Linked DNA regions of Homo sapiens. The protein of the gene in region 4 interacts with the protein of the main gene of each other region in a pairwise test. Each region holds a gene or a part of one and is shown on either strand. Other genes may lie near its edges.

Region 1 (7,503 bases), on a different chromosome or scaffold from region 4:
GTGCCACTGCGCCTGGCCTCATCACAGTGTTCTGCTTTTATCTGCTCCTGAAAGCTGGGGTGTGCTGTAGTAAACTTAGAAACAGGAAATACAGAACAGCCATTTTCTCCTGCTGATCATATTCCCTGCCAGTTTTCTACTACCTGGCCCACTGATCGCCTTGCCAGATGTCTTCCCAGCTGTAATAAGCCCTGTTTCCCAGGACTCAGTCATAGCCATAACCAATGCTTTCCCTAGAAATGGCTCTTACAAAGTCTCAGGAAAGCTGAAGTTGGACAACAACCTTTTTTTTTTTTCTTTTTAAGAGACGGGGTCTCACTCTGTCAACCAGGCAGGAGTGCAGTGGCACAATCACAGCTCACTATCACCTCAGCCTCCAGAGTATCCAAGACTACAAGCACACACCACCGTGCCTACTTATTTTTTTGTAGAGATGGGGATCTGACTTTGTTGCCTGGGCTGGTCTTAAACTCCTGGCTTTAAGTGATCCTTCTGTCTTGGCCTCCCAAAGTGCTGGAATTATAGGCGTGAGCCACCATGCCCAGCCTATACCACAACCCTCATTCAGCTGGTCTCCCCCGGGGAGGCTTCATCTAACAGAGCCAAGACTGTCCTCTCCATACACTTAGGTTTGTGTTTGCTACTTGGTTTTTATATTAATCACCTTTCACATCCATTTATATGCAAAATTAATAGAAATAAAGGATGCAATTTGTCATCAATGATGGTTCATAATAATCATTTAGGCACTTGTAGAATGAAAACTACTAAGGTTTCTAGGACTAAGAAGAAATACTAAAGTAATACACTTATTACCACCAAAGCCACTACATTTTTTGAGGTGTATATTTCACAAGGTATGCATAATTTAGATGACAAATTAAGGCTCAAATTTTAAGGATGAATAGCTATTTCATTGATCTCACATGGCTCACTAGGCAACAGATTCCCATTTAAAAGGGATAATTGAGTTTAATGGGATGCTAACTATAAGGGGCTGAGTAGGGTTAAGGGAAACCAAGTCAAGATATCCAGTCAGCAGTGTCCAGTAGAAATTTCTGTAACGATGAAATGTTCTACATCTACATTGTCTAATACAGTAGCCAAAGCCACACATAGTTATTAAGCACTTAAAATGTGGTCAATGTGACTAAGCCACTGAATTTATTAATTCGTTTAAATAGTCACATGTTGTCAATAGCTACCACATTGGACAGTACAGTTCAGGTCTAGCAAAGAGCCATCACAACTCCTAGGCCTGAAAAGGTGAAGTAAAGGAACAATTACTGAAACCTGGGATGATGCAGAATTAGAACTCTGTCTTCAGGAAAGGATTACACGGCAGGAGCTGTAGCCTTTGACAGAAGAATGCTGCCACTGCCAACTTGCAAACCAACAGGGGAAGAATTGGGAATAAATACCAACTCACTCTCACTCTTCTTTTTGCCCCCATTCCCCTCTGGTGCCTCTGACTGGTGGAACTCAACCAAAAAGTAAAGAGAGCTCCTTGATGCAGCCCATAAAGGTCAGCCTCTTGGAGCACAGAACAGTGAAAGGTGGAGAGTATATCTGGAACAAAACATTATTATACCCCGTGCAAAATGAATTGAGGCATCAAAAGTTTGCTTTATTGACACTTATAAATCTAAATAAATATGGAACCAATAGCAAAACATTTAAAAAGTATGTTGGTAAAGGAAGTCCTACAAGTGTTTCCTGTTGTTAAAACTATCCGAGTTTTCTGTTGCAACAAACAGGACAATGTTTTAATCAAACTGTGACTGTGTTCATTTCAGGTTTCCTACATGAAGAATTGTCAATACTACGCTCCCTCAACTATATTCAACCAAGGATCTGCGTGAAACTTTTTCTAAGGTACCATCTCAAATATATTCAACCACGGAACTGCGTGTAACTTTTTCTAAGGTACCATCTCAAATCACAAGGCCTGGGATTGGGAAATTGTTTTACTTTACTAAAGACCACTGTAACTCAATAAACGAACTTAGATTAGAAAATTAGAGGCAGACCACTACTCCTCTCGGACTGCATGGCCACTGTCTTCAGCTGTTTTCTGTAGTGATTGTTTCTAGGTATTTTACCTATTTTACCAACCTTTTTCACTTTTTGCACTGAATAGTGCTAAGGGAAAAAAAGGATGGGGAAAGGAGGAGTGGCAGTATCTATAGCTAGAGGGTCATCCTATTTGTGGAAAACTTTATTGTCTACTTTAGTGGGTCCTGAATATTAGTCCAGTCCTTACTGCCCAGCACTTAAGGAAGAAAGGTCTAATGTGACTGTATGGGGGTTGAAGTAGGTACCAAAGGAAAAGCAGTTCCCACCACCTCCAAGGAGCAGGAGCTGTTGCTCTTCAGGAAGAAGGATACTAGTATGGTTGTGTAACATTAATGGCCATGGCACATATGTTGTGTCAATCTGATACTCAGAGCTCAATCCTGTAGTCAAATTGATCACAGTCACTCCAGGAAATGAGGAGGAATGAATCCAGATCCCTCCAACCAGTAACAGCTTTCCATTGAGCACATGAGCTGTGTGGGAGTACCTTGGGGTAATGGGAGGCTGGATGTCTACTGACTCCCAGAGGAATCCACAAGAGATTGGTCTCAGAAAGAGCACAGAGTTCAATGGCTCCTCAGAAGCCCCGAGACCTCCAGCAATAAGGGCTCCCCCTTGCCAAGTGCAGGCACTGTGAGAATGCCGGGCTTCAGGTACTTCTCCCTCCACTGGGATCCTGACCCAAGCCATTGTCCCTACATGGAGGAAATGCCAGTCACTTAGTACAGGTTCCACCACGCTTCGACCCCCATACACAAACAAATATTCCTGATTCTGACAGGACACTTCTGTTGTTGAATGCCGCCAACAACACAAAGTGGAATCATCCTTTCGGCCAGCCTTTGTTATTGTCACTTTCAGGTCCTCAGTGTTATTATCCTCACTCTTAAAAAAATGAAGCTGGAGAACCCCCAAGGCTGGACTTACTGGGGACAGTCTCCCTCCCAGAACCAGAACCCGACTCTCTGAGAGTCTTGTCATGGTGTGATAAAGGCGTCCATCCCACTGAACTCCAGTCCCACAACTGCCTATTTGGCTGCCTTTCCATTCAGAGTCACAATCTCTTGAGAGCAAGTGAAACTGGCTCACTCGGCAGTGCCGCCCCTCCTGCTCTCCAAATCCTCCTGCACTGAGAATAACGTCTGGGCTCAAGAAGACAGAGGCGTGGCCATATCTCTTCAGGTTTGGGACCTGGCCCTCGCTACTGACTACGCTGGCAGGGAATACCCCTGAAGGCGAAGCAGGATTTACGCGAGGAAATGCCTCTGAGGATGGAAACACTAGGGTGTGGGAGAGGGTGTCTCCCCTAGAAGCTGCCAGAATGAAATAATGGGCGCACTTCAGATGCCACTCCTCAAATTCGTCAAAGGGTTCAATATTTTCCACCCGCCGGCGTTCTTCTGCGGGAAGAAAGCAGTGATAGAATTCATTCATGTCCACGGCACCGCAGGCGGTCCAGCCAGCTTGAAGGAAGCGGCGCCGCTGCGCCTCCACGTCAGGAAAACGCTCCAGGCCATGCAGGGGGGAGTTTAGCTGCCGAAAATGTTGCAGCATGAACTGGCCAAAGGCGTCTTGAGGCCTCATCTGCTCATAGACCACGAAAAGGGCATTAGGAAAACGCTGGGCTGCCCAGGCGATGAGGGCCGCGGCACTCTCCGGCTCGAGGTAGGTCAGCACCGCCTCGGCCAGGAGCAGAGTGGGTGAGGCTGCGTCGAGCCCCGCGGCGCCCAGGGCCTCCTCCACTCGCTGGAGCTGCCGCAAGTCCAGACCCAGGATGCAGTAGTCTGCGCTCTCAAAGCACAGCGCGGACGCGGGCTCCCCCCTCTCGAAAGGCCCGGTTAACGCGCACAGCTCTGGCGTCTCTCCAATCCTTTCTGCTTTGCGCCGCGCCACGTCCGGAAAATCCACCTCCCAGACTGCAGCCCGGGCCAGGCGGCCCGCGGTTTTTAAGCGAAAATAGAGCGAGTCGAAGCCAGCGCCGAGAGACAAGATCTGCGCGCGAAGCGCGGCCTGGGGCGCGCCAATCTGCTCCAAAAAAGCGCGCACGCAGTGCCTCACGGCGCGTGCGCGGACGTAGTAGCCTCGGTGAATGAGCGGTGCGCGGCGCGCCGCGCCCGGAACCAGCAACGCGGCAAAGGGGTCCTGCACGTACCCGCGCGCGGCCAGGGAACGCTTGCTGAGGGCGCTGCTGTCGTTGGTGTTCTGTACCGCGCCTGCCCGACGCTCACGGCTCCGGGGGCCCATGGCCAGAAGAGACTCAGGAATGGCAGTCTGTCACGGTTGTGAGCCGCCCCTTGGTTAGCACACACCTCACGGACCTCGGTAGGGGGAAAAAAACCACCCATGCTCCTGGACTTCCCCTTCCGCCGGCACTTGTGCGTCACTTCCGGGAAGAGCGCATCTCGCCAACCAGAATTGAGGAGGGTGTAGCCAGTGCTAAGTTCGCTTGCGGCTGACCTTTCTTTGGAATGTCGTGAGTTCCATTTGTCCCAGAATACGGTCCGCTACCGCTGTGACATGAGTGTTAGGGAAGGCGGGTTGTCACGTTTCTACAAGCCTTCCAGTCAAAAGGGAAACCTTGCCTAAGTCCTTGTAGTTGAGAAATCTCTAAGAGGTGAGTCTGTGGGGACTGACGACTTGGCTTCCTTGGACCGCCAAGGAAGGGTCTGGTAGGAGCCAAGAAGGGTCGGCACCACGGACCTTCAGTAGGCAAGGATTAGTTAGCTTCCTTGGGTGCTAATAGTTGCTGATTTATTTAATGCTCTCACAGTTGCAAAAGAGAACCCCATTTAAAACTTGAAAACAAGTCACTAAGGCCAGGGTGCAAACTGAAGAAACCGACCTTTACAAATAATTTATAGACACCTAACAAGAAGACGTTTCCCCACAGATAGTAGACTGTTGATTCCCTTGTATTCCCAGCCCTATGTTAGACTGACGGTGAATAAACCACTCAGCCTCTCTTTCTCATCACACCGCCTTGGAGAATTCTGTGGATTTTAAAGTAGTGTTGAATATGTCCCCAGAAAGGGGAGTCACTGAAGAGAGGTGATTGTTCCCTGTGATATGTTCTGAGCTTTGTTTTTAAGGAGTAAATCCAGGTTAGACTTCAGAATAATCATAAAGTTTCTAAATTGGGTGTCTGGGAGTCATCCATAGGAAACCACTTCCAGAGACATTTAGGAAATTTATCATTTGTTCACTGGGATTTGGTGACTGACTGGCTGAAATAGAAAAGGAAATCAGATAACTTTATGGTTAACTACAGGTGGTACTGCATAATGGTTAAGAGTGTGAGTTTTGGAGTCCAGCAGATTTGGATACTGGAGTCAAGAAAAAGTTTCGTATTTTCCAATGTTTTCTTGTGGAACAAAATGAAATAAGAAAGAAAAGGTTTGGATCAGGATAAAGATTCGGTAATTGAAAAGTGACATTTAGATTTGGTGTTTAAAAGCTCATTAATGGCCTTAGGGAGAGCAGTTTCTGTGGAGCAATAAGGGCAGAATCCATGTTTCAGTGAATAGGAGGTGAGTTAAAGGAGGTATCCAGTCTAAATTATTATACTTTCGAGGAGCTTAACTCAGAAGGAAAAAAGGGTCAGGGCAGTGGCTAAAGAATATTGTGGGATAAAAGAGTCTTTTGTTTTGTTTTCAGGTGGAAGCAAATACTGCACATGCGTGTTGGTCCTGTGAGGGAAACCAGCTAGTGGAGAGGGAGAGGTTGAAGGAACAGAAAAATGAGAAGACAACTCACTGGTAGAGTAACTTGGAATAGATAGAAATGGGATCCTGGGCACGTATTAGTTGTGGGGATAGGAGAATGAATCCTTTATCTGTGACTCCTGATGGGGTAAAAAAAAGATTATGGATAATCATAAGCTCAGGTGTGAGGTAGGGCAGAGAGAAAAAGAAGGAATTTGCACCTGATGGCTTCTGTTTTCTCTGTAAAGTTGGTGACAGAGTTGTCAGTTTAGTGTAAGGCATTCAGATCTGATGGAACATTTGAGCAGTTTGAGAATTGCTTCTGAAGGGATTAGAAGAAGGGCTCACCTATGCCTGCTGGGTCAGTGGATCCTCACCTCTAAAATGAGATTAAGTACTGCTTCGTGAGGTATCTCAGGGTTGATTGAGGGGCAAATAGAAAAAAAAAAAAAGTTGAAGGACTTTGAAAAATACGTAGCACCATAGAAACAAATTTATTTAATGACAGGTTCCTAAAATGTAGGTGTTATGTCAAAAATACTACTTGTTTTGCAAAGACCAGATCAAGAAAAGTAATTAAAGAAGAAAGAGAATGGAGTAAAATTTCTGATTTCGATGCCTTATGATTTAGGCCGGGGGAGGAGGGGCCATTGTTTAAATCTCAGTTTATTCTTATATAAAATGGGGATAATAATATCTCAGGGGTTGTTGTGAGGATTTAAACAAAATAACTATCTAAGACACCACAGTGCCTGGCTCATGGTAAGTGCATAATAAACAGTAACAAATTTTTTTTTATTCTGAGTTCCCTTTTGGGGGAGTAGGTGGGAGCATGAAAAAAGTTCCCTGGGAGACAGGATACTTGCTTCTGGCCCTGCTCTAATATTGATGAAGTATTACTAACGTGGATCTTATCCCAGTGTTTGTTGCCTTCCGTCCCAGAGCAAAACCAGTCCAGAAAAGTTAAATTTGTCATGGCATGCTGTTGTTGGTATCCATGTTTTAGGCAAGGAACAACAATTTTTTTTAATGTGTAAAGATTATGATTGCTTAGTTGCTTTTTAATTTCCATAGGTTAACATTGTAGCCAGTGGGTCAGTAAATTTACTCACAGCTAGTTAAAGGTCAGTCTGGAGGATGGTTTGAATGGGGCACAAATTAAGGTCAGGATCCTGGAGTAAAATTGAAAATCTGGCCGGGCGCAGTGGCTCGCTCCTGTAATCCCAGCTCAGGCTGGTGGATCACTTGAGCCCAGGAGTTTGAGACCAGCCTGGGCAACATGGTGAGACCCCGTCTCTACAAAAAAAATTTTATATAAAATTAGATGGGCATTGTGGTGCATGCCTGTGATCTCTGCTGCTTAGGAGGCTGAAGTGGGAGGATCGCTTGAGTCTGGAAGCTTGAGACTGCAGCAAGCTGTGATCGTGACACTGCACTCCAGCCTGGGCAACAAAGTAAGATCCTGTCTCAAAAGAAAAAAAAAAAAAGGTATGTTTTTCCATTTTAATTAAATCATTTATGTTTTTCGGTAGAGATATTAAATGCCATTGATTAAATAGTCCATCTTTTTCATTTTTTACTATTTATTAAGCACTTACTATGGCATTACTTTGAAATGCCATGTTTATCTCATACTAAGTAGGCCTTTCTATGGATTTCTATGGCTATGTTTAGTCCTATACAAACTACTTTCTTTATTGTACATTTTAATATCTTGGTAACTTAT
Region 2 (6,805 bases), on a different chromosome or scaffold from region 4:
TTTTTGAGACGGAGTTTAGCTCTTGTCGCCCAGGCTATGATATTTTGAGACAGGGTCTCCCTCTGTCACCCAGGCTAGAGTGCAGTGGCATCTCGGCTCACCGCAGCCTCAACCTCCCGGCTCAAGCCATCCTCCCACCTCAGCCTCCCAAGTAGCTGATACTACAGGTGTGTACCACCACTCCTGGCTCTTTTTTTTTTTTTTTTTTTTGAGACAGGGTCTCCCTCTGTCACACAGGCTGGAGTGCAGTGGCATGATGTCGACTCACTGCAGCCTCAAGCTCCCAGGCTGAAGCAATCCTCCCGCCTCAGCCTCCCCAGTAGCTGGGAGGTGCGAGTCACTATGCCCAGCTAATTTTTGTATTTTTTTGGTAGAGTTGGTGTTCTGCCATGTTGCGCAGCCTAGTCTCGAACTTCTGGGCTCAAGCAGTCCTCCCTCCTGGGCCTCCTACGGTGTTAGGATCACAGGGGTGAGCCACTGCGTACAGCCATGTTTTCAGTAACCTTTTAACTGAAATTTAGCATTTCCTTTCACTGTGAATTTAGGTAACAAACCACAGTAGTATTAGCAGTATCTGTGGTTTCATCTCAATAGCAGTTACAGATATGCTTACTTTAGAATGGCTGTGGATATCTTGAACCATAATTTGTATGCATTGCTAGTTTTTTATTACATTTATTAGAGACTGCTGCTAGATCTAGTTAATATGATAACAAAGAAGTAGACTTGTACTCTATCAAATATCTGGGTTTAATTTTCTTTTTTATTTTTTGAGAAACAGTCTGGCTCTGTTGACCAGGCTGGAGTGCAATGGCGTGATCTTGGCTCATTACAACCTCTGCCTCCCAGGCTCAAGTCATCCTCCCACCTTGGCCTCCCAAGTAGCTGGCACTACAGGCATATGCCACCATGCCTGGCTAATTTTTTTTTTTTTTTTTGGTAATAGAGACAGAGTCTCACTTTGTTTTCCAGGCTGGTCTCAAACTCCTGAGCTCAAGCAATCTGCCCACCTAGGCCTCTCAAAGTGCTAGGATTACAGGCGTGAGCCACCGCACCTGGCCCATGCCTGTAATCTCTTTGAGAGTCCAAGGTGGGAGGATGGCTTAAGCCCAGGAGGTTGAGGCTGCAGTGAGCTGTTATCATGCCACTGCACTCCAGCCTGGGTGACAGAATAAGACCCTGTCTCAAAAACACAGAAAAAATAAAAATAATAACATTACACCGAATAGGGGATCATGGGCTTCACAAAACTGCCAAAGCAGTCCACAGTAGAAAAAAGGACGAAAACCCCTGCTTAATAGAAATATTCATTGTCCTAACTCAAAGGAATGCTTGACTTTGGGTGTGGTGTTGTCTCTCTGATCTGAGTCCATCTCTTGGTGCCCTAAAGGGGAGAGTCTCTGGGACTCTTGTCCCCATAGCAAACAACTGCATCAACTGCATGCAGGGCATTGGATAAGGGAATGTCCCAGGTGTAGAGAATCAATCAGTTGCAGGCCTACTTGCAACCAGTGGGCTGACAGCGAGCCATACCCTCACATTCGCCTGAGAAAAGTGGCTGCTGGCCTTCTCTCTACTGAGATTTGTCCCCTGATACTTATCATCCTAGCCACAGCCAGCTGGACCAGAGATCTCCCTTGTGTTTGGGTGGTGGCCTGAGGAGTGGCCAGGCAGGAGAGCCGGCCAAATAGGTACTTTCAGATTGAATAACAACTAATCGACCCAGTTGGATCCTGTCCCTTGGGAAGTTGGAATTTGAACACTTGAGGGAGTCGACAGGTGGCAGGGCCAGCAGAATTGACAGGCACACAAAAAAAAAGGTGAAGGGAGAAGGGGAAGTGGAGCCAAGCGTGGGGATTTGCCAAGTGAGGGTGGCCTTCCACCCCATTCATTCAGAGGAGGTCTGGCTGAGCAGCCCCCAAGAGCCCACAGAATTGTGGAGGGCCAGGGGTCCCCAGCTGCGTAGGGCTCATGGGAGAACATGAGACAGGCCAGACACCCAAAATGAGGAAGTTGGGGGGGCTTTTTTCTCAGCCTTCCTGACCTGGCGTGACCTCCTCTGGGCCCATGTAACAGGCCTCCACACCCCCTTATGCCTGGTGCAGGCACCCTGTTAACTTCTATGTCCCTGTAGGTCCCTTTCCAAGGACTCTACCTGCTTGACTGCTCCCAAAGCAGCCAGAGCCAGTATTGCCCCTGGTGGGGAATGGAGCTGGAGAGCAGGCTGGCAGCAAGGAGGAGAGAGGGACAGAGAGGTCTGTCACTCATTATCCCAGAGAAGCATCATGGGGTGGACTCCTCTGACCTGGCTCCTTTTGTTTCCCATGGCTGGGGTCCTTCTTTCCCTCTAGAGCCTGTAACGCCCCCGCTCTGTCAAATTCCTCATACAGCAAACTTATTCTACTCTCTTTACCCAGAAATAGGTCAGACTCAACTACATCCATATCTGATTTCTTCCTTTGTTTTTTTTTTTTTTTGTATGTTTAGTAGAGACAGGGTTTGACCATGTTGGCCAGGCTGGTCTAGAACTCCTGATCTCAGGTGATCCACCCACCTGGGCCTCCCAAAGTGCTGGGATTACAGGTGTGAGCCACGGCGCCTGGCCCCCCAACAGCATTTTAGAGATGAGGAAATGAGACTCAGAGAGGAGTCTGATGGCTATAGTAAGAAATGAGGAGTCAAGCTCCTTAGTGTGCGCTACAAAAACCCTGCACACCTGACTGTGTTTGCAGCTCCCTGCCACCCATTCCCATCCTACCCTCCCTTGCCAAACAGATACACTTGCTTTCTCCAAAATATGCCCTCTCATCTCCAAGTTTTTGCTCCTGATGTTCCCCCAGCTAGAATACCCCTAGGATGTCCTACTGAATTCTGAGTCAAACTTTAAGACTCAAAGTATGGGCCAGGCATGGTGGCGCATGCCTATAATCCCATCACTTTGGGAGGCCAAGGCAGGAGGATCACTTGAGACCAGAAGTCCGAGACCAGCCTGGGCAACACAGTGAGACTCCATCCCTAAAATAAAACACACACACACACACAAAAATTACCGGAGCATGGTGGTGCATGCCTGTAGTCCCAGCTACTCAGGAGGCTGAGGCAGGAGGATGGCTTGAGCCCACAAGGTTGAGGCTGCAGTGAGCTACGACTGCACCACTACAGTCTAGTCTTGGCAACAGTGAGACCGCCTCTCAAAAAAAAAAACAAAAAAAGACTCAAAGTGTGCTCCACTGTTCCTTCAGTGAGGCATCGGGGGCTGTGTCCTAAATGTCTTTGTATCTCCAGCCCTTCACATTAGGGCCTGGCAAGGTAAGAGACCAATAAATATGTACCCTTTGGCTTCATTTCACTAAGTCATTAGGGTCCAGAGGTATGGTCAGCACTTGGAACCCTGTGGAATGGCCTCAAGATCAGAGTCCTCTTGCCCAATTCTTGGCTGGGAAGTAGGTGACATCTAGAATCCATGAGGGTATGGGTGATCTCCTGGGTTCCAGACATTTGCATTGAGTTTATTCAATCACTTAACAATATATATTAGGTCTGGGCTGGGCACGCTGGCTCACGCCTGTAATAATCCCAGCACTTTGGGAGGCCAAGGCAGGCGGATCATCTGAGGTCGGAAGTTCGAGACTCACCTGACCAACATGGAGAAACTCCATCTCTACTAAAAATACAAAATTAGCTGGGTGTGGTGGTGCATGCCTGTAATCCAGCTACTTGGGAGGTTGGGGCAGGAGAACAGCTTGAACCCAGGAGGCGGAGGTTGCAGTGAGCCAAGATCATGCCATTGCACTCCAGCCTGGGCAACAAGAGTGAAACTCCATCTCAAAAACAAAACAAAACAAAAAAACCCAATATATATCAGGTCTGTTATGCTCTAAACACCGTGCCGGGTGCTGAGGATCAAAGATGAATAGAGAAATGAACTGAAATGATATAGTGAAGTTAAAACTTAAAGAACACAACAAATCTGTAAAAGACAAACAAAAGAGGGTTTAATCTGTGCTTCTGTCCAGGTGTGTGGAGCTGGGGGTGGGGTTGCACCTGCCCGGGAGCATTCCCAAGGCAAATATTTGAGAGGAATTAGATTTCTAATACCCAGGTTGGCTCTCACTTTCAGGAAGATGTGAGACCTGAATCCTAACCTGGACGCATTGTTCCCCTAATTCCCAGCAGCAGATCTATGAATTAGCGGTCTGGGTGGCAGCCCATTCTTCTTTCAGAGGCCCAGAACACCGTGAAACTATGCTTTCCTGACTCAAGAGACCCTACCTAGACGTGGGCCCCTTTGACGAGCACCTGCCCCTCAGGAGGGTCTCAGGCGACCTTCTTGGAAGGTGTGACCACTTGAAAAGGACGAGGAGGCCAGGCGCTGTGGCTCTCGCCTGTAATTCCAGCACTTAGGGAGCCGAGGCGGGAGGATCGCTTGAGTCCAGGAGTTTGAGGCCAGCCTGGGCAAGATTGGGAGACACTCCCCACCCCGCCCCATTTCTACAAGTAATTAAAAATTTAGCCGGGCGTGGTGGCGGGAGCAGGAGCCACTCAAGAGGCTGAGGCAGGAGTATCACTTGAGTCCTGGAGGTGGAGACTGCAGTGAGCGGTGATCGCGCCACTGCATTACAGCCTGGGCGACACAGCGAGACCTGTCAATCAATCAATCAATCAATCAATCAAGAGGAGGCTGGCGGGAGCATGCTCGTGACCACCGGGGGCGACATAGACCCTAACCCTAAGTCCAACCCCAAGGCAGACCCCACCGTCCCGCCAGGCGCACTCCTAAGAGCGCGGCTTCCGGAGCAAAGCCGCTGACCCCCGCCCCCAGGGTCTTGGCGCCGATTGGCCAACGAGAGCGCAGGGCGGAGCCAAATCTTAAAGGATCCGGGAGCTAAGCCAGACCCGGGTGGCGGTGGCAGCTGCGAAACCCAGGGAGCCGATGCCACGTGACCCAATGTGGACTTCTTTTAAACCTTTCTAATGCCCATAACCCAGCCTCAGACCCATGGAGCCCACGAGAGACTGCCCGCTGTTCGGGGGCGCCTTTTCCGCCATCCTCCCCATGGGGGCCATTGACGTAAGGTGAGAAGGCCGGGGCGCCCAGGGGCGGCTGACTGGGTGGGTTGTGGGAAGAGACCGGGGTCAACCAGGGTCTGCCTCGCCTCACTCCAGCGACCTCCGACCGGTCCCGGACAATCAAGAAGTTTTCTGCCATCCCGTGACGGACCAGAGCCTGATAGTGGAACTTCTCGAGCTGCAGGCCCACGTACGGGGCGAAGCGGCTGCGCGGTGAGGGAATGGCCCCCGGCTGGCCAATGGCAGGGGCGGGGTCGGACCAGTGGGCGGGGCCCGCGGCCGACGGTTAATCCGGGCGGTGAGACCACGCACGGGCCGGGAGCCAGGCCTGCAACTTAAAGATGCTCCCGGGGAGGCGACCAGAGATGTCCCTTCCTGACCCCGCTTCCCTACTCCAGGTACCACTTTGAGGATGTTGGTGGCGTGCAGGGGGCTAGGGCTGTCCATGTGGAGTCTGTTCAGCCTCTCAGTTTGGAGAACCTGGCCCTGAGGGGCCGCTGTCAAGAAGCCTGGGTCCTCTCTGGCAAGCAGCAGATAGCTAAGGAAAACCAGCAGGTGAGGGCCCGAGAGTGTGTAATGTCCTGGAAGGGCGGTAGCGGGGACGCAGAGATCCAGGTAAGCATCCTGACTCTGATCCCCTTAGGTAGCAAAGGACGTGACACTTCATCAGGCCTTGCTGAGGCTGCCCCAGTACCAGACTGATCTCTTGCTTACCTTCAATCAGCCCCCGTAAGGAGGAAGGAACGGGCGGGTATCTCATGACTGGGTTCCCAGGAGAATCGGGCTGGGAGGGACAGAACAGGGAGACTCACTGGTGGGATCCTCCAAGGAAGCAGGAGTGGGCCAGAGGTTTGGGGTAACTGATACCCAGGTCCTCTGGGGAACAGGAATTGGCAATTTCCAAACCTCAGGCCTGGATGATGTTCTGTCTCCATCTGTTCCCCCACCCCAAGCCCTGACAACAGGTCATCTCTTGGCCCCGAAAATCTGTCACCTGCACCCTGGAGCCTGGGTGACTTTGAACAGCTGGTGACCAGTCTGACCCTTCACGATCCTAACATCTTTGGTCCCCAGTAAAGGCGCTGAAGCACTGCATGATGTTGCTGAGAACTTGGGGACTCGGTTCTGTGAGGGGGAAAAGAGGTTGAAAAGAGGGTTTCCTCTTATTTCTTCCCTGTGCGTAAACATAAGACAATCCCTCTTCAGAATAAACTTGCTTTATAATCAATATAATCTCTGTGCCTTTGAATCTAACAGGACACCTGGGTCCCAGACGCCTGGGAATTGGGTCTCTCGATTCCCTTTGGTTTTGGAGGGAGGAGTTTAAAACTGTGCATGGGAGCAGGAGGGACTCAAGGGTGGCAGTGGTGAGTGGGAGGAAATACACTTTGGGATGACTCGTTCAGCCCTGAGAGAGGGGTGTGAGTTACCCAGGGAATGGGTAGGGAAGGTTTAAAGCAACACCCAAGGAAAGAAGGGAAACTCATCTCTTGTAGTGATTCAACCCTGAGAACAGATGGGGAGTGGGGTTGGCTGTCCCCCATGGATGGATGAAAGGTCACCTAATCAGTAGTCACCAGGACATAGTGGTGGAGGCACAAGTGGCCAAGGAGTGCTCATTTGGTGGAGACTGGGAAAGCGGCTGTTATTTAGTGTCTGTGTAGTAGAGGGAGCGCAGCTGGTCCCAGAAGAAGAGGGAGAGGATGGTGTGGGGGCCGAGGCGGAAGTAGGAGGC
Region 3 (7,025 bases), on a different chromosome or scaffold from region 4:
GTACCCTCAAATACCTATGAGTTGGGCAAATTTGTCTCCTCTTGAGGTCCCAAGATAGCTTGGGGTTCCTGAGCCTGTTTGAAAGTGACATTCTTTACTTACCACAGGTCAGGAACCTTGTACAGAGACTCTGTGTGGACGGGGTATAAGGCCAGATTCCCCAACGGGCTTTAATTGGCTATATAAGTCAACTTTGATTCTTTAAAAAAAAGCATGCCATTCCAGTCAAAGCCTTGGTAAAATAACCAATTTCTCCAACTGTGGCCTGTTACAAAAGAAAACAGATTCTTATTGCACTTATGCAATTAGCTATACTGCCATAAATTGAGAATATTCACAAATAGTTTCCAAATTCTGGAGAAATCAGGTAGAGAGGAACAATATGCTGTAAATTTTGTTCACAGGAGTTTATTTTACTCACATGATAAAAGTTGCAAATAGTTCTAAAGAAATAATTTCTCTTGACTCTGAAAACAAAAGGTTTAGCAATGTTTAACACATTAGCTCTCCGTGAGAGTCCTAGAAGTTTGTTTTTTTCCTCTATTCCAATAGCACAGTTCTTAAAGTTATCTGAGACCTGCACTTAGAGTCCTATATTTGATTATAAACTGCATTTTGAAAAGGACCAAAGCAAGATAAAATGTCTGTGGATGACAAAAGTCTATAGCCACTATTAAAGCTACAATTGACTAGGAATTTTGGTTACTTCTGTGGCATACAACAATTTTACATAGCAATTATAATTATTAATGTACACTAAACTATATCAACATTATAGAAGTTTCCCATAATTTTGGACACATACTAATAATATATTTATACAAATACAGTCTAAAGTAAACCAAACACCATTCACTCTTCTATTTGAAAGTTTTTCCTCTATTCTAATGTCACAATCTCCAGAGTTATTAATCAGAAACCTGCATTTATTAGCACCTGTTAAATTTTATAGCTGATTATAAAACCATCTTTTAAAGAGGACCAAAATGAGACAAGTGTATGACAAAAACATTTTAGGGCAGCCACAGTTAAAGGCACAATTGGCAAGGAAATTTGTTACCTCTGTGGCACACAATCTGTTAACATAATCATTATAATTATTACTGATAACATACACTAAGTCATATTAGAATTATAGAAGTTTTATGTAATTTTGGAACATATACCAATAACATTTATACAAATATAGACCAAAGAAAGCCAAACACCATTTCATATTTGACAATGCCTCCTGTATGATTTTGTATCAGATAAGCCAAATCATTTTTGGGCTTTAGAGGACCTAATATCTAAAAGGTTAGAAAGAGACATAATTTTTAATTGGATTTTGGAAAGTTTGTCAAATATCAAAGGTTTAAAACACTGGATATCACAAAATAGAATCCCAGGTCACCATAAGTCATTCGTTTAGCCAAAATGATAACTCCAAAAAATTTTTTTGTAAAGAAAAACTTTTACTCTGTTAGAGGAGACTTAGCTTTCCAAACAAGACTCGATGAAGATAGCATGAGGCCAACTGAATCTGTCTCTTCTCTCCCTCTCCTCTTTTTTTTCCCTGCCATTCACCCAAAGGAGAAAAGAAAACCCTTTCATTATCTTTTAACATTACATAAAAATCATCTTCAGAAGAGAAAAACAAATTTCATATTTGTACTAGCGCATCTTTAATGTTAAAGCTAGTTTTTTAAATAAAATTTTATATCTCTACCCAGTTTTAATTAGTTTGACCATACAGTAAGATTTTCATAAACTTTTTAGAACCCTTTACAATTTTCCACCAAACAGTAGGTCAATTTTCTAAGAAAACCCTGTTATTCAGACACGTGGGTCCAGATTCTGGCCCCACATCAGTATGATTTTAATGTTTTAGCCTACAGAAAAAAGCTAAATAATTTCTTTTAAATCTTAGCCAACTTGTTGATACCCACAGAATTTTTACACGATCAACCCTTTACAAACCTTTTTTACTTAGCTTAAATCTTCAGTTTCGATTCTGTTACTCTTTTAGGTTAAGACAATCTTTTTTTTTTTTTTTTTTTTTTTTGAGACAGAGTCTTGCTCTGTTGCCAGGCTGGAGTGCAGTGGTGCGATCTCAGCTCACTGCAACCTCCACCACCTCCCGGGTTCAAGTGATTCTCCTGCCTCAGCCTCCCAAGTGGCTGGGACTACAAGCGCCTGCCACCAAGCCTGGCTAATTTTTTTTTTTTTCTTAAGTAGAGATGGGGTTTCACCATATTGACCAGGCTGGTCTCGAACTCCTGACCTTGTGATCCACCTACCTTGGCCTCCCAAAGTTTTGGGATTACAGGCATGAGCCACCGTGCCTGGCCAAGACAATCTTTAAAACCCTCTGAACTAGACAAAATTACATTCCCTTTAACAAAAGCTATGGCTAAAGCTATGCCAAGTTCACATGGCATTCTCTATCTCTGTCTTCCTGTGGCCAGCTTCTTAGGAGGACACTAGTCATATTGCACTAGGGACCCACCTTACCTTAGTAAGACCTCATCTTCACTGTGCTTACATCTGCAGTGACCCTATTTCCAAATAAGGTCATATTGTGAGGTACTAGGACATATCAAAAATGTTTTTTTGTGGGGACACAGTTCAACCCATAACATTCTTTAACTCTTTTATATAGTATATCCCTATCTGTAACATTTTTTTTTGAAACAGGGTCTCACTTTGTTGCCCAGGCTGCTGGAGTGCAATGGGCGATCTCAGCTCACCACAGCCTCGACCTTCTAGGCTCAAGTGATCCTCCCACCTCAACCTCCCGAGTAGCTGGGACTACAGGGGTGCACCACCATGCCCAGCTAATTTTTGTATCTTCTGTAGAGACAAGATATCGCCATGTTGCCCAGGCTGGTCTCAAACTCCTGGGCGCAAGCAGTTCACCCAGGCATGGGTACATACTCCAGTATATGTTTGCTTATTTATGTGAATATTATAATGTAACATTGTACAAAATAATGTACATTAAAAGATAATCTTACCCTTTTAAAATGTTCAGGAAACCTATAACCTTTTCTAGCGGGAGCAATTGCCTCTGCTTTTTATTTTTTGAAATCATAGGGTTTTTGTTTGTTTTGTTGTTCTTGTTTGTTTTGTTGTTGTTGTTATTTTATAGAGATGGGGACAGGTTTTTTGTCTTTCTGTGGTGCTCAAGCTGGTCTTGAACTCCTAGCCTTAAGTAGTCTTTGCACCTTGGCCTCCCAGAGTGCTGGGATTACAGGCATGCACCACTGTGCTCAGTCTTTTTTTAGAGGTGGAGTTCTCGCTCTGTTGCCCAGGCTGGAGTGCAGTGGTGTAATCATGGCACTACAGCTTTGAACTCCCGGGCTCAAGCAGTCCTCCCACCTCAGCCTGCAGAGTAGCTAGGACCACAAGCACACGCTACCATGCCAGCCTAGAAATCTTGGTTTAATACTTGATGGAATAGTAAGTTGGAGGTCAGAATCTAAGATTAGTTTATTTTGATACTTTAATGGCTCTCATAGTTGAAAATGGTACATCACAAACATATGTAACATCATTGGCTGCTCTTAATAAATCATAAAACTAATTTTTTTCATCCTCATTTACTCATTATCCAAAGAATTTGGTTGAAAATTTTCTATTAAATTTCTAATTTATTGAGTGCCAAAAGTTGTCTTAGGAATCATTACAAGATTTTGCATTTTAATGTTTTTAACAAGTACAATATGTTCAAAATCCACTCATTTTATTATTGGGAAGTTTTGGGGTTTTTTTGTGGGGGGTGGACAGAGTCTCGCTCAGTCCCCCAGGCTGGAGTGCAGTGGTGTGATCTCGGCTCACTTCAACCTCTGTCTCCCAGGTTCAAGCGATTCTCATGTCTCAGCCTCCCCCAAGTAGTTGGGATTACAGGTGCCCACCACCACGCCTGGCTAATTTTTGTATTTTTAGTAGAGACCGGGTGTTACCATGTTGACCAGGCTAGTCTCAAACTCCTGACCTCAGGTAATCTATCCGCCTCGGCCTCCCAAAGTGCTGGGATTACAGGTGTGAGCCACCACACCCAGCCTTTTGGGAAGATTTTTAACACGTCAGAAAATTCTGTTTCTTTGTTTAAGTACAGATGTGAGAACTGTATAGGTGACACACTTGAACTGATGGTGACAACAAAGAAACATTTCCAGGTGCCTTCTTTAAAAATGCTATCTCAGCCTGTAATCCCAGCACTTTGGGAGGCTGAGGCGGGTGGATCACAAGGTCAGGAGATCGAGACCATCCTGGCAAACACAGTGAAACCCGTCTCTACTAAAAATACAAAAAAATTAGCCAGGAGTGGTGGCAGGCGTCTGTAGTCCCAGCTACTCGGGAGGCTGAGGCAGGAGAATGGCATGCACCCGGGGGGCGGAGCTTGCAGTGAGCAGAGATCCCGCCACTGCACTCCAGCCTGGGTGACAGAGCAAGACTCTGTCTCAAAAAAAAAAAAAAAAAAAAAATGGTATCTCAGTATCATGAAGAGTAGTTACTTTATTGGTCGTTGTTAAAATGTCACCGTTGCCATTACCAATTAAAATGTTTTCCGGCTGGGCGCGGTGACTCACACCTGTAATCCCAGCACTTTGGGAGGCCAAGGTGGGTGGATCATCTGAGGTCAGGAGTTCGAGACCAGCCTGGCCAACATGATGAAACCCCATCTCTACTAAAAATACAAAAATTAGCTGGGCATGGTGGCACGTGCCTGTAGTCCCAGCTACTCAGGAGTCTGAGGCAGGAGAATCGCTTGAACCCAGGAGGTGGAGGTTGCAGTGAGCTGAGATGGCGCCACTGCACTCCAGCCTGGGTGACAGAGCAAGACTCTGTCTCCAAAAAATAAAAATAATAAAATAAAAAGTTTTGGCTCATTTCTCATTCTGATCTCAATCATTTTCACTCCATAACTTGATTGCCAGCAAGCTCATAATTAGGAGGAAGAGTAGCAGCCTGCCGTTTTCTTGGTCACTTGCACGTATAATAAGATCTTCAGCCTCTCTTTCTTTGAGGGAATCTTTTTGGAACAATGTATCCATATTGTGAGGATTGATTTAATAAGATGGGATGGTATAATCCACAAGTCCACATAGGCAGCCACTCCCATACTGCAGGAGGTCACATTGCGCTGATGGAACCTGTGGTCCCCATCAGGGCTTCCCTGGGGGCACTCCCACTCTTTCTTCACGATGCGTCTCTTAGACCCGAGACCATCTGTCATGGGAGCTGAATGAAGGCTCCAAGACAATCTCTACAGTAAATATTTGTACATTTCTTAATTTTTAATTAGAAATGAATATTAATGTAGTTACATTGTTTTTCCACCTTTCTACTGTGCTTTGGTGATCTTGGCTCTAACTAATAGTATTGGGTCATTTAATTTAATTTTATTTATTTATTTATTTTTTGAGACAGAGTCTCGCTCCTGCTGCACAGGCTGGAGTGCAATGATGCAGTCTCGGCTCACTGCAACCTCCGCCTCCTGGGTTCAAGCGATTCTCCTGCCTCAGCCTCCCAAGTAGCTGGGATTACTGGTGCCCACCACCACACCCAGCTAATTTTTGTATTTTTGGTAGAGACGGGGTTTCGTTATGTTGGCCAGGCTGGTCTCAAACTCCTGATCTCAGGTGATCCACCAGCCTTGGCCTCCCAAAGTGCTGGGATTACAGGTGTGAGCCACTGTGCCTGGCCTGGTATTGGGTCATTTTAGAGAACAGGGCATAGCAACAGCAAGCCAGGGAGCTGATGAAAGCAGAATGATACTTCGGCATCACCCCAGTGTCTTTGCTGCTCTCTTCGTAGACGTACCGTGAGCCCGTGTCAGACTACCAGGTCCTGCGGGAGAAGGCTGCATCCCAGAGGCGCGATGTGGAGCGGGCACTTACCCGTTTCATGGCCAAGACAGGCGAGACTCAGAGTCTTTTCAAAGATGACGTCAGCACATTTCCATGTGAGAGTTGCCCCACTGTGTGGACCCTGTCTTATTTGAAACACTCACATTATCTTTTCTTTCTCTCAGCATGGTAGGAAGAAACAAATAAGCTTTTGTCCTTCCCTTGGGTACAGCTTGCCTCTCAGATTTCTGGCTCCCTTCCCCAGGTCTTAAGAGTCTGTCCTTAACTGACGACTCCAAAACAGTAATGGTCTCTGTTGGGACTGGCTGCTTGAGGTCCATAGAGTTACCTTGAGGGTAGCCTAGGCCTAGGCATCAGAGACACTTGGTGGCAGCCCAGGTAGTAGAAGAACATTGGCATCAGGGGCCAGTTGCCCATCGTGATGTTCCCTCGTAGGTCCCACCTCATTTAACTTGGCATCTCAGCACTATTTGGCCATGTTGACCAAGCTACTTCATTTCCAAAGACCTCAGTTTTTACAAATGTGAGTGAGGGAGGTTGGTTTGGGTGATTCATTCATTCAGCAAGCTCCTGTGGAACGCCCGCTGTGTGCCTGGCTCTGGAATAACAGCAGCTGCCGGTTGTTAAGTGCCAGATACTGTGCTCATCATTTCCCATACATTATCTCATTAAATCCTCTTGTGAGCCTCTGAGTTGGGAACTGATATATCACTACCTTCATAGGAACCCTTCAATGAGGCACAAGAGAAGAGAAATGAAGTCACTTCCTCAAGGAACATGGCTAGTAGACATCATTCAAACCTAGCTCTTACTGCAGGACCCCACATCTGACCCACAGCAAAAATAATTCTGGAGTTTTTGTGGGTTTTTTTGAGACAGAGTCTTGCTTTGTCATCCAGCCTGGAATACAGTGGCGCAATCTCTGCTCACTGCAACCTCCGCCTCCCGGGTTCCAGCGATTCTTCTGCTTCAGCAAGTAGCTGGGACTACAGGCAGGAGCCACCACACCCAGCTAATTTTTTGTATTTTTAGTAGAGACGGGGTTTCACCCAGTTGGCCAGGTTGGTCTTGAACTCCTGAGCTCAAGTGATCTGCCTGCCTCAGCCTCCCAAAGTGCTGGGATTATAGGCATGAGCCACCACACCCAGCCAATTCTAGAGTATTTTCTAA
Region 4 (7,025 bases):
AACTTCCTGACTAAAACATTTACAGATGATTTTGTTGTTCAATTAACGAAGAACTGATACTGGTATAATTTGATCACCTAGGCTTGTGGTTCCTACACGGGGATGTAGTAGCCTTCTCGAAACAGACATTTGAGCTCCTCTGGCTTTCATCCGAGCTTCTGGTGTTTAGTAGGAAATAGTCTCCGAAGTGCAGGTCATGTAGTCCTAGTGTTTTATAGTTATAAAGCTGAATTGTTCTTACAGGAGTTACAGAGGTCTATAAAGAAAATGTCCATAATCTCTCTGTCTTCAAGTTCTAGTTCCTTAGCCCTAAAGTCAGCAAAGTTAACATTTGGTGTCCATTATTCCCACACTTTTCTCTTTGTTCATATCATCGTGTATAAACATATACACAGGCTGGGCATGGTGGCTTTCACCTGTAATCCCAGCACTTTGGGAGGCTGACGCTGAGGTGAGAGGATTGCTTGAGGCTAGGAGTTCAGGACCATCCTGGGCATTAAGGGAAGACCCCATTTCTACAAAAAATAAAATATTACAGCTGGGTGCAGTGGTGTGTACCTGTAGTCCGAGCTACTCGGTAGGCTGAGGCAGGAAGATTGAGCCCAGGAATTTGAGGCTGCAGTGAGCTATGATTGTGCCACTGCACTCCAGCCTCTATGATAGAGGGAAAAAAAAATCCATATACAGACATTGATTATTTTATTTTTCTTTATGGAAGTGGGATTATATTATGCGTGTAATTTTTATAACTTTTCTTAACAGTATGTGAGGGTCATCCTTCCAGATCATTACATATAGCTCTAACATTGTTAATAGCTGCGTGATGCTCTATAATACTGGTATACCCTATATGCCACTTATTAATAAACTTAAGTTACTTTCATTTTTTCCATCATAAGTAAGACTGCTTAATCATTGGAATAATAATAGATTTTGTTAAAAAGGCACCCCTTTGGTATAAATCTCAAATGGCCACTATTTTAGAAACATTAACATGGAAAATAATATTTCTTCTAAAGTTAAGATTAACAGAACTGACTTTAATTTGTTTTATTTTAGTTATTAGATCTTTTGATGTCAACAAACCTGGCTGTGAAGTTGATGACCTTAAGGGAGGTGTAGCTGGTGGTAGTATCCTAAAAGGAGTATTAAAGGTAAAATGGGTTTTGGTTGTTGTGATTTTGGGTTTTTTTTTTTTGTTGTTTGTTTGTTTGTTTTATCCTTGTCTTAATCAGGAAAAAAAGTATGGACAATCCAAATTGAAAAATAAAATTTTTTCCATGGTTTCTGGTATTTGATGTAGAGTTCTCTTTTTTAATATTCTTTTTTTCTCTCTTCAAACTTCACTCCTCCCACCCTTCTAGACCTCTGAATCCACAATCTACCTTCATGAGATCCACCTTTTTAGCTTCCACATATACAGATGAGTGAGAATGTGTGATATTTGTCTTTTTGTGCCTGGCTTATTTTACTTAACAAAATGGCCTCCAATTCTAGATGTGCTGCTGCAAATGGCAGAATTTTTTTTTATGGCTGCATAATACTTCATTGCATATATATATATGCTGCCATTGCTTTTCTTTTCTTTTTTTTTTTTTTCTTGAGGCGGAGTCTTGCTGTTTCGCCCAAGCTGGAGCGATCTCAGCTCACTGCAACCTTCACCTCCTGGGTTCAAGCGATTCTCCCTGCCCCAGCCTCCCAAGTAGCTGGGATTACAAGCACCCCCCACCATGCCCAGCTAATTTTTGTATTTGTAGTAAAGACAGGGTTTCACCATGTTGGCCAGGCTGGTCTTGAACTCCTTACCTCAAGTGATCCACCCGCCTCGGCCTCCCAAAGTGTTGGGATTATAGGCGTGAGCCACTTTGCCCGGCCTATATACTGCATTTTCTTTATCCATTCATCTGTTCATGGGCACTTAGGTTGATTCCATGTTTGGCTATTGTGAACTGTGCTACAATAAACATGGGAGTGCAGATACCTCTTTGATAATATTGCTTCCCTTTCTGGTGAATGTATACCCACTAGTGAAACTGATGGATCATATGGTAGCTGTATTTTCAGGTTTTCAAGGAACCTCCATACTGTTCTCCATGGTAGCTATACTAATTTACATGCTCTGATAATAGTTTTTTTTTTGTTTTGTTTTTTGAGCACAGTGGCATGATCTTGACTCACTGCAACCTCCACCTCCTGGGTTCAGGTGATGATTCTCCTGCCACAGCCTCCCGACTTGCTGGGGCTACAGGCACTCGCAACCTCGCCCAGCTAATTTTTTTGGTAGAGATGGGGTTTTGCCATATTGGCCAGGCTGGTCTCTTAACTCCTGACCTCAGGTGATCTGCCTGCCTCAGCCTCCCAAAGTGCTGGGATTACAGGCATAAGCCACCACGCCCAGCTATATTTCTTTGTTTTCTGTTATGTCTTTTGAATGTGTCTGACTTGAAAATTTATAGACTTGTAAGTATGGAGCACATTTGATGTGGTAATAGACTTGTGTGGTGGGTAGTTAACAACAGTTGGATGGTTCTGGTTTTGACAGTCTCGTTCACATCTTTTTTTTTTTTTTTTTTTAAGAATAATGATCTTTGAAATACAGGAATGATTGCCTTTTCAGTTTTATGGTCTTCCGGTTGGACCTTTATTATTATTTTATTTTATTTTATTTTTGAGACAGAGTCTCTCTTTGTCACCCAGGCTGGAGTGCAGTGGTGCGATCTCGGTTCACTGCAACCTCTGCCTCCCAGGTTCTAGCAATTCTGCCGCAGCCTCCTGAGTAGCAGGGATTACAGGTGCGTGCCACCACACCTGGCTAATTTTTGTGTTTTTAGTAGAGACGGGGTTTCACTATGTTGGCTGGGCTGGTCTCGAACTCCTGACCTCAGGTGATCCACCCGCCTCGGCCTCCCAAAATGCTAGGATTACACATGTGAGCCACCGCACCCAGTCCCTGTTGGAACTTTTGATAGGTAAATGATAATTTTGCGTAACACAGTAATTCTAATTACTAATTATATGTTTACAGGTGGGCCAGGAGATAGAAGTAAGACCTGGTATTGTTTCCAAAGATAGTGAAGGAAAACTCATGTGTAAACCAATCTTTTCCAAAATTGTATCACTTTTTGCGGAGCATAATGATCTGCAATATGCTGCTCCAGGCGGTCTTATTGGTAAGGATTTTTTTCTCATCTCTTTTAATTTGTGGCTATTTGTGGTACTTTTCATGGGGGATGGATTACCAAAAGGGACATATTACAGATTTTTAATTGGGTATTTTAATAATAGAGTAGGGTGGGGAACAATCATGTGGTTAAGCTCTTGTTTTAGGTTATAAGATGGTTTCATGGGTTTGTAAAAATTATTTTTAAACACAAAGGATACATTTTGATCAAATATAGAGTAACTCCTTTTTAGCAATATAAAAAAATAAATTTGATGACTTATCATGTAAGATATTTACCTACACTTATGTTTTTGTTAACATGATTTTTGTGCTAGATAATGGTTGCCTTTTTTTTTTTTGGGAGATGGAGTCTCGCTGTGTCCTCCAGGCTGGAGTGCAGTGGTGCAATCTTGGCTCACTGCAGCCTCTGCCTCCCAGGTTCAAGCAATTCTTATGCCTCAGCCTCCCGAGTAGCTGGGACTACAGGCACATGCTGCCAGGCCCAGCTAAGATTTTTGTATTTTAGTAGAGACGGGGTTTCACCGTGTTGCCCAGGCTGGTCTTGAACTCCTGAGCTCAGGCAGTCCCCCTGCCTCGGCCTTTCAAAGTGCTAGGATTACAGGCGTGAACCACCATGCCCGGCCATGGTTGCTTTTATGTATATTTTGCAAATGGAAAATTACCTACAAATGTCAGTTGAATGATATCAGGTCGTATTTCCAATGAGGTAGAAATAAAAGAAAGTAAATTTCTTTGTGTAGCAATTACTGAAGTGATTTAAAAACTTTTCTAGTCCCTTACAACTTAGTGTATTACTCAATACCCAGAAAAATGAAAGATTCAGTGAGAATTAGAAGGGGTGTTGTACCTTTAGATTAAAGAAGAAAATGTTTGGTAAAGAAACAGTTAATTCTTCACCCAATAAGTTGTGTCTCTGGTTGAAAATTTTAAAAAGGAAATAAAAGAAAACAAAAAAATGAAAAAGAGTTTACCAGGTTGGCTGGGCGCAGTGTCTCATGCCTGTGATCCCAGCAATTTGGGAGGCTGAGGTGGGTGGATCGCTTGAGCTCAGGAGTTTGAGACCAGCCTGGGCAACATGGTAAAACCTTGTCTCTACTAAAAATACAAAAGTTAGCTGGGTGTGGTGGCCCACGCCTGTAATCCCGGCTACTCGGGAGGCTGAGGCATGAGAATCGCTTGAACCCAGAAGGCGGAGGGTGAGCCGAGATCACACCAGTGCACTCCAGCCTGGGTGACAGAGTGACACTCTGTCTCAAAAAAAAAAAAAAAACAAGAAGAAAAGAAAAGAAAAAATGAATTTACCAGGTTGGGTATGGTGGCTCATGCTCATAATTCCAGTGCTTTGGGAAGCTGAGGTGGGAAGATTGCTTGAGACCAGGAGTTTGAGACCAGCCTAGGAAACCATGAGATGCCATTTCTCCAATAAAATAGTAAGATTAGCTGGGTTTGGTGGTGTGTGCCTGTAGTTCCATCTATCATTTTATCTTTTGTGTGCATGTGTGTGGTAAACAAGGGAAATCTGGAAACTTTTTAAAAATTTAACTTAAGGAACTTTTTTAATTTCTTTTTTTTTTTTTTTTTTTTTTGAGGCAGAGTCTCATTCTGCCACCCAGGCTGGAGTGCAGTAGTATTATCTCGGCTCGCTGCAACCTTTGCCTCCTGGGTTCAGTTAATTCTCCTGCCTCAGCCTCCCGAGTAGCTGGAACTATAGGCACATACCACCACAGCCAGCTAATTTTTGTATTTTTAGTAGAGATGGGGTTTCGCCATGTTGGCCAGGCTGGTCTCGAACTTCTGGTCTTAAGTGATCTGCCCTCCTTGGCCTCCCAAAATACTGGGATTACAGGCGTGAGCCACCACACTTGGCCTAAGGAACTCTTTAAACATAGGATAGAATACTGTAATGATAACCCCCATAGAGCCATCACTCAGCTTCAGCAATTATTAATGTTTTACCAGTCTTGGCTGGGCGTGGTGGCTCATGTCTGTATTCCCAGCACTTCGGGAGGCCGAGGTGGACGGATCACCTGAGGTCAGGAGTTCGAAAAACCCTGTCTCTACTAAAAATACAAAAAAAAAAAAAAATTTAGTCAGGTGTGGTGGCACATGCCTGTAATCCCAGCCTGTAATCCCAGGTCACAGTGAGCCGAGATCACACCACTGCACTCCAGCCTGGGCGACAGAGACTGTGTCTCAACAACAGCAGCAAAAAAAAGTTTTCCCAATCAATCTTGCTCCATCTATATATCTTCTTTCCCCTACTCCCCTCAAGACACAGCTAGAATATTTTGAAGTAGATCCCAGGAATCATATGTAGTTTTTTTTTTTTTTTTTTTTTTTGAGAGTCTCACTCTGTCGCCCAGGCTGGAGTGCAGTGGCACGATCTCGGCTCACTGCAACCTCTGCCTCCCAGGTTCAAGTGATTCTCCTGCGTTAGCCTCTCGAGTAGCTGGGATTATAGGTGTCTGCCACCATGCCCAGCTATTGTATTTTTAGTAGAGATTGGGTTTTGCCATGTTGGCTAGACTTGTCTTGAACTCCTGACCTTAGGTAATCCTCCAACTTGGGCCTCCCCAAGTGCTGGGATTATAAGTGTGAGCCACTGCGCCTGGCCCATATGTAGTCTTTAACTATCTTTTCAATCAGTCTTTCAGGGGAGAAATGGCATGCAGGTATTCTGCAAACTACTCATTTTGAATTTTGTATTCTTTCGGTCTTTGTTAAGGATATTCGGACTCATTTTGAGTTCACTTATTATCTCTATTTGCCCTTTGTTTAGAATTTATTGTTTTCAAGACCAGGTCAGTAATACTTACCATCTCCTGCATTAAGTTCTCAGCCAAGCCATCATTCCTAGAAAATCAGATTTCTAAACCCTTTGTTTAGAATTTAAATCAAGAGAATCGTTCTGTTCTCATTTGCCCAGTCATCTCATGAGTGTATATTTCTATTTGTCTAGATAAAACAGGTATTTTCTTGTACCTATATAGCTATTATATGAGTATAAAAATAAAAGTATGAAAGTGTGTAGGTATATGCTGTGCTTATATGGCTTTGGGGTATCTAATTCACTTTTTTTTTTTTTGGAGACAGAGTCTCACTCTGTCACCCAGGTTGGAGTGCAGTGGTGCGATCTCGGCTCACTACAACCTCTGCCTCCTGGGTTCAAGTGATTCTCCTGCCTCAGCCTCCCAAGTAGCTGAGACTACAGGTGCACGCCGCCACGCCTGGCTAATTTTTTGTATTTTAATAGAGACAGGGTTTCACCGTGTTGCCCAGGCTGGTCTTTAACTCCTGAGCTCAGGCATCCACCTGCCTCGGCCTCCCAAAGTGCTGGGATTACAGGTGTGAGCCACTGCACCTGGCCAACTAATTCACTTTATAGGTGTTTTAGGAAATAAAAAATTGAGCTATATACATCTTATTTTTATATAGGAGTTGGAACAAAAATTGACCCCACTTTGTGCCGGGCTGACAGAATGGTGGGGCAAGTACTTGGTGCAGTCGGAGCTTTACCTGAGATATTCACAGAATTGGAAATTTCCTATTTCCTGCTTAGACGGCTTCTAGGTGTACGCACTGAAGGAGACAAGAAAGCAGCAAAGGTAAATGCTTTTTTAAAAATTCCTGTTTCTAAAAAAGTGACAAATGGGAGTGTTAAACCAGTGTTGAGTTTTATTGTTTTACAGTTAACATGAAATTAAGAAAAAAAGAAAAGGTAAATAAATTTGACCTCCCCAAAATTGAGGGTTTTTTTTTTTTTAATTTAGAGATGGAGTCTCTCGCTCTGTTGCCCAGGCTGGAGTGCAGTGGCGCGATCTCGGCTCACGGCAACCTCCAC

Evidence for each region.
Region 1: the proteins of EIF2S3 (region 4) and MAPDA interact in binary tests that used the Homo sapiens proteins (3 or more experiments, as listed by UniProt).
Region 2: the proteins of EIF2S3 (region 4) and RANGRF interact in binary tests that used the Homo sapiens proteins (3 or more experiments, as listed by UniProt).
Region 3: the proteins of EIF2S3 (region 4) and TAF8 interact in binary tests that used the Homo sapiens proteins (3 or more experiments, as listed by UniProt).

Annotation. Positions count from the first base shown.
Region 1 is NC_000015.10:43,326,170-43,333,672, forward strand, and holds the start of MAPDA (N6-Methyl-AMP deaminase), read left to right. Parts: upstream 1-4,502; 5' UTR 4,503-4,690; intron 4,691-5,730; 5' UTR 5,731-5,831; intron 5,832-7,141; 5' UTR 7,142-7,265; intron 7,266-7,503. Other genes in the region: LCMT2 (tRNA wybutosine-synthesizing protein 4), read right to left, coding at 2,260-4,320. UniProt on the Homo sapiens protein: Catalyzes the hydrolysis of the free cytosolic methylated adenosine nucleotide N(6)-methyl-AMP (N6-mAMP) to produce inositol monophosphate (IMP) and methylamine.
Region 2 is NC_000017.11:8,283,790-8,290,594, forward strand, and holds RANGRF (ran guanine nucleotide release factor), read left to right. Parts: upstream 1-4,880; 5' UTR 4,881-4,999; coding exon 5,000-5,076; exon of another isoform or gene 5,077-5,166; coding exon 5,167-5,283; exon of another isoform or gene 5,284-5,468; coding exon 5,469-5,625; coding exon of another isoform or gene 5,626-5,713; coding exon 5,714-5,799; coding exon of another isoform or gene 5,800-5,803; exon of another isoform or gene 5,804-5,826; coding exon of another isoform or gene 5,827-5,854; exon of another isoform or gene 5,855-6,023; coding exon 6,024-6,147; coding exon of another isoform or gene 6,148-6,195; 3' UTR 6,196-6,298; downstream 6,299-6,805. Other genes in the region: SLC25A35 (solute carrier family 25 member 35), read right to left, coding at 6,716-6,805. UniProt on the Homo sapiens protein: May regulate the intracellular trafficking of RAN. Promotes guanine nucleotide release from RAN and inhibits binding of new GTP by preventing the binding of the RAN guanine nucleotide exchange factor RCC1.
Region 3 is NC_000006.12:42,060,510-42,067,534, forward strand, and holds part of TAF8 (transcription initiation factor TFIID subunit 8), read left to right. Parts: intron 1-5,802; coding exon 5,803-5,950; intron 5,951-7,025. UniProt on the Homo sapiens protein: The TFIID basal transcription factor complex plays a major role in the initiation of RNA polymerase II (Pol II)-dependent transcription.
Region 4 is NC_000023.11:24,064,939-24,071,963, forward strand, and holds part of EIF2S3 (eukaryotic translation initiation factor 2 subunit 3), read left to right. Parts: intron 1-1,059; coding exon 1,060-1,154; intron 1,155-3,025; coding exon 3,026-3,170; intron 3,171-6,619; coding exon 6,620-6,789; intron 6,790-7,025. UniProt on the Homo sapiens protein: Member of the eIF2 complex that functions in the early steps of protein synthesis by forming a ternary complex with GTP and initiator tRNA.